Regions from separate parts of the Homo sapiens genome. Here region 1 is linked to region 2. The links come from fine-mapping of genetic effects on gene expression. Tissue or cell type: whole blood. Region 2 holds a variant in brackets; the other region holds the start of a gene. All regions are shown on one strand. Distances are between the middles of the regions.

What was found. PIP is the estimated chance that this variant, and not a neighbour inherited with it, causes the effect.
Region 1: it holds the start of PLEKHA2, and the variant in region 2 is fine-mapped to the expression of PLEKHA2 in whole blood (TOPMed, PIP above 0.99).

The regions. Positions count from the first base shown.
Region 1 is chr8:38,900,186-38,902,866 of GRCh38, forward strand. It overlaps PLEKHA2 (pleckstrin homology domain containing A2), which reads left to right and starts at 1,161. Exons shown (of 12, transcript NM_021623.2): 1 at 1,161-1,260. LOC124901937 (a long non-coding RNA gene) reads right to left here and starts at 1,260. Exons shown (of 2, transcript XR_007060893.1): 1 at 1,028-1,260; 2 at 1-511. RefSeq lists an enhancer at 1-72 and silencers at 673-1,082, 1,163-1,832.
Region 2 is chr8:38,972,947-38,975,615 of GRCh38, forward strand. It overlaps PLEKHA2 (pleckstrin homology domain containing A2), which reads left to right. Exons shown (of 12, transcript NM_021623.2): 12 at 1-966. It overlaps HTRA4 (HtrA serine peptidase 4), which reads left to right and starts at 1,282. Exons shown (of 9, transcript NM_153692.4): 1 at 1,282-1,783; 2 at 2,085-2,184. The coding sequence starts at 1,318. RefSeq lists a silencer at 1,449-1,678 and an enhancer at 1,859-1,918. The variant G/C (reference allele first, on the strand shown) is at 1,264.

The sequences.
Region 1 (2,681 bases), 73 kb before region 2:
AATCTTCTACATTTTCATGTTTCGGATGTTGTCCACCTGACTTGATGCATATTCAAATGTCTCTCTCCCGACGTGGGAGGCCGGAGTCAGAACCTGACAGACCTGCCGTTTACTAACTGGGTACCCAGGGCAAATTACTTCACAAGTCTGAGTCTCGGTTTCCTCACCGTGAACCGGACTGGTACCCATAGGTTGCGGCGTGGATCAAATGAGATAGCGCAGGGGCGGGACCCGCGCACAGCAGCTCTCTTAGTTCCTCTTGGCGAGGTTTACGTAGTAACACATGCTTGTCTGTTTCCCATTTTTTCCCAGAGCACCCTCATGCTCTGGGGGCAGGAAGGGAGTCTTCGCATCACACCGAAAAAGTCCCAACGGGCACGGTGTAGGCGCCTGTGGTCCCAGCTACTCGGGAGGCTGGGGCAGAAGGATCGCTGGACCCAGGAGGTCGAGGCTGCAGTGAGCTATGACTGCGCCACCGCACTCCAGCCTGGGCGACAGAGCCAGACCCTGTCTTGATTAAAAAATAAAATAAAATAAAGAAATTAAAGTCCTTATAACCCTGGTTAGAGCGTTCCCGCCCACTGGTCTCTTAGGGCACATTTAGGACAACCTGAAGAAGCCACTCTTCTTGGGACCCTAACCCTTACCCCAACTCCTCGGTCCCCAAAGGCTAAGGGCTCGGGATCCGAAGGAGGCCCAGCTGAGGTCGCTGGGTGGGGCTCTGGGAGGAGGAAATGGGGTTCTTGAGGGAGCTCGCGCTCCAGCTCGCCTCCTCCTGCGAGGACGCCCCCTGCCCGGACACCTGCTGCCCGAGCGAGCGTCGGGGCCGGGCCTCCCCGCGGGGCAGTCTCGGCGCGCAGGTCCCACCTGCCAGGCGCGGAACGCGGGCGGCCTCGGGCGCAGCCTCCGGGCGCCCCGCCCCCGCCTCCCCCGCGCGGCCCCGGCGCCCGGCCGCACCCCCTCCCAGCCCGCGGCGCCCCGGCACCCCTCTCCCTCCCCGGCGGGCTCCGCGGAGCATTGTACTCACATCCGGGGCTGGGTTTTGCTTTAATGCGAAACGTAATTAACCCGGAAAAAAGAGCCGAGGGACGGGAGAGAAGGAGGGGGCACTGGGGGAGACCAGAGCGAGGGGAGCGAGAGGCGCGGAGAGTTTGGCAGGCAGACCCAGAAATCCCTGGAGCGCGGCGGACCCGGCGGCCGGAGGGGCGACCCCGCCCGATGTAACGCGCCCCGCCCGAGCCCCGGCCCCTGCACGGGGGGGTAAGTTGGGCGCCCTCGCGGGCTCGGGAGTGGAGAGGCGCAGAGGGGCGCGCGGGGGCTGGCGGGGCTGGGGGTGCAGGGGGCGCCCCGGCGGAGGCCTGGCGGCCTAGGGGCGCGAGGGGCGCGCGCGCAGGGCTGAATACGCCGGTCCTAGTGGCTGACAGGCGAGGGGAGGTGGCCGCAGACCCTGGAGGCCTCCTCCAACCCTCTGGGAGAGCCCCGAGGGCAGCCCCTCCTCCAAGTGCCCCGGGTGGCCAAGGTCGCCGCCGCCAGGGGTCGGGCTGCGGGGGGTGGGGCCGCGGAGAGGGTGGGGGCGGGAGTTCTGCTGAGCTGCATTTTCTCACGTTTGCAGCAGCGAAACTTCTCTGCGGGTTCTGGCGCTGGGGCACCGACCCCGCAACGACTGCCCGGGCTGCGGGAGGGGAGGAGAGCAGAGAACGTCCCCAGGCAAGTCCCTTGGGTACGGATTGGGCCATGGAGACTCCTCTTTCACTCCCCCGACTACCTTATTAAATGACAGGCCTAGAAGGCTCCCCTAGGGACTCCTGTCCTTTCCTCTGGGTGCAGCCTGGACTTCGGGCTTCTGGAACTCCAGACAGTGAAAAGGACTGCCCTAAAATGCAGGTTCGGTGCCAGGTTGGGTGAGCCCTCGAGGGGAGCTGTCGTTCTCTCTCTCACCAACTTCTTCCTCACCTTACACGCTTCCCTTTTCTCCTCCAGTCCTAAAGACGATTTCACCAAAATTTTTTTAAAAAGAAAGAGAAAAGAAGGGTGTGGGGGGGGGTGGTGGGAAGCTAGGCCGTTTAGAAGGGAAAAGTGTCCCTGCACGCCCAGAGAGGGGCGCAGGGCCCGCTGCGGCCGGAGCACCCTCACATCTCCTCCCCGGGGCCAGCCCTGCCCCCAGGCCCTAGCCTTAGGGTTTGGCTTCCTTCCTTCTTGGTGAACGCAGGTTCAGGATGTATCTTCCCCTTCTCATTCCTTCTTCCTGCCCGCCCCCTTTCTTTCTTTAGGGCTCCAAGTGGGGTTTTCAGAGGACAGTAAACGGCAGAGAAGAGGGAGGGGAGAGCACCCCACCAGAAAGCCAGCTGTGGCTCTGGGGGCTCTGAAGGCTGAGCTGTAGATGCACTTGGGGCTGAAGTCCCAAGATTGCACTAATGGTGTTCTTAATCTATCTGACCAAGTCCCATTTTCCCTTCTTTTGTCATTTTTTTTCTTTGGTTGCGAAGCCTTCCGAAACAGCAAAGCAAAAGATCTTGAAAGAATAGAAGTTTTTGCTTTCTATTTCAGTTGCATTCAGTTGACATGTATTATACATGCAAGGCAGTGATGAACAAAACACAACCCCTGTCTTTATTTTTTCTTTTTCCTTTACCTCTGGAGGGCTGGACCCTGTCTTTGGCGAGCTTACAGGACTTGTAAGC
Region 2 (2,669 bases):
TTATTTTTAGAAACAGTGTTTCACTCTGTCACCCAGGCTGGAGTGCAGTGGCCTGATCATGGCTCACTGCAGCCTGGACCTCCTGGGCTCAAGTGATCTTCCTGCCTCACAGCCTCCCAAAGTACTCAGATTATAGGTGTGAGCCACCACGCCTGGCCACCATCTATTACTTTTGAAATCTTCAAAAGACTTGCTTACTCAATGTCAGCTGATGGTTGGTAAAAATAATTTGGCCTTTAGTGTTAAGTGAGACATCATAAGGGTATTGAGGTATACATTATGGAGATTGATGTCAGGTCAGAATATTGGAGTTATACATCTATTTCTGAGTTGAATACTCAGCTCCCACGAGAAAGAAAGTAGTTTTAAGGTCCAGCTTCTTAGTCTACTTGAAGCAAATTTTTTTTCTTTTATATTTCTGAATATAAATATACTCTTATATGGGCTAAAAAGACCCCATGAATAAATAGCAGGTTCAGTAGTTGAGGAGTGGAGTTTAGTAGGTTTGTTTTCAGTATAAATTAGATAACATGTGGAGGTCACAGCATTTTGGAAATTGAGTGTCCCCAAGTGAGCTTTGTTTATAAACTTTCAAAATGTCGGAAGTGGACAGGTTTGTTAAATCTTGTCTGCCAGCACCCTTTTCTTCCTTTGTTCCTTTTCCTCTCTGTGTTATTGCCTGCGGCAGCCAGTCCTTCATACTAGATAGAGTTCAGATAAAGCAAACGTTTGGCAAAAACATACTGTTTGACCTCCTCCCCCTCTGCTTATGAAGGGGTAGCATGATTCTGTGTTTTAAAGCAGTGATGTTTCAGCTGTGAAATGCACTCGCTGTAAGCTCTAGGCTGAGTGCATGGAAACTGTTACGCTTCTCATTTTATGTGATCTCCTAATTGGTATGTAGCAAAAATTTTCTAAAACTGTTTTGTGGCTTGTTTTGTAATAAAACCATGTGAAATACTGAAATATGGTCATGTGTTTTCCTAATACTGACCTTCTGACCATGGGTGGGTGAGCTTTCTTATCAGTCTGCCCTCATTGTCGGTTTTAGGGATTTCAGGAGGTAGGTTCCTGCTCCGGGTAGGGCTAGAGACCTTCCCCTCATTGCCTGGGGGAGAACCTGGCTCCGGGGCGCCGACGGGGGCGGGTGGTAGGGGATGTACGGGTGTGTATATGCAGAGGTATGCCAGGCTCTGCCCCTTAAAGTTTGGGGGCCGGCGGAGGCGGCGCCGTGGCCGGGAGAAAGTGTCTCTCATTTAGGAG[G/C]GTTTGCAGGTCCAGAGTAAAGTCACTGAAGAGTGGAAGCGAGGAAGGAACAGGATGATTAGACCTCAGCTGCGGACCGCGGGGCTGGGACGATGCCTCCTGCCGGGGCTGCTGCTGCTCCTGGTGCCCGTCCTCTGGGCCGGGGCTGAAAAGCTACATACCCAGCCCTCCTGCCCCGCGGTCTGCCAGCCCACGCGCTGCCCCGCGCTGCCCACCTGCGCGCTGGGGACCACGCCGGTGTTCGACCTGTGCCGCTGTTGCCGCGTCTGCCCCGCGGCCGAGCGTGAAGTCTGCGGCGGGGCGCAGGGCCAACCGTGCGCCCCGGGGCTGCAGTGCCTCCAGCCGCTGCGCCCCGGGTTCCCCAGCACCTGCGGTTGCCCGACGCTGGGAGGGGCCGTGTGCGGCAGCGACAGGCGCACCTACCCCAGCATGTGCGCGCTCCGGGCCGAAAACCGCGCCGCGCGCCGCCTGGGCAAGGTCCCGGCCGTGCCTGTGCAGTGGGGGAACTGCGGGGATACAGGTGAGCCGCGGGGGCGCGCGCCCTCGGAACACTTTCTAACTCTGGAGGAGCGTAAAGGAACAAGACCTCACTGAGACCGCACAGTTCGCGCCTGGTCCTCCTGCGTCATTTGCCTCCTGGATTCGACACCTCTGTGTTCCTGATTTCCTTTCCTCCTTAACAGGGGCTCTTTACCGGCTGCTACGTGGTTTCTCCCTCCCCATGCACCTTTTGAACACTGTCTTGCCTTTAACATTTTTCCAACTAGGATAGCAGGTCTGGTTCCCTCGAGGCGTACTCTTGAGCCAGTATTTTTTCATAGGGACCAGAAGCGCAGGCCCGCTCAGGAGGAATTACAACTTCATCGCCGCGGTGGTGGAGAAGGTGGCGCCATCGGTGGTTCACGTGCAGCTGTGGGGCAGGTAAAGGAGGAGGAGGAAGACCTCCACTGTCCCAGCTAATGGTTTCTGCGTGCCTACCTGCTCCAGACCCTTCGCAAGCGTCATTTAATCCTAAAAAACCAGTGAGGAAACTGAGACGTAAAGAGGTTGAATAACCTGTTCAAGGTCATTTAACCAAAGAGCAGAGGCACAAGGATGCTGACTTCTAAATCCCAGCTCCCCCTGCCCACTTAGGTGGCTGGTGCTTTTTCCCCCTCCTGCCACAGACAAAATTTAAGGTCAGATATAAGAGCTAGTAGGCAATTTCTTTTCTTTTTTTGAGACAAGGTCTTGCTCTGTCGCCAGGGCTGAAATGCAGTGACAGATCACGGCTCACTGCAGCTCCATCTGCTGGGCTCAAGTAATCCTCCCAACCCAGCCTCTGGAGTAACTGGGACTATAGGCAGGTGCCACCATACCCAGCTAATATTTGTATTTTTTTGTAGAGACGAGGTCTTGTTATATTG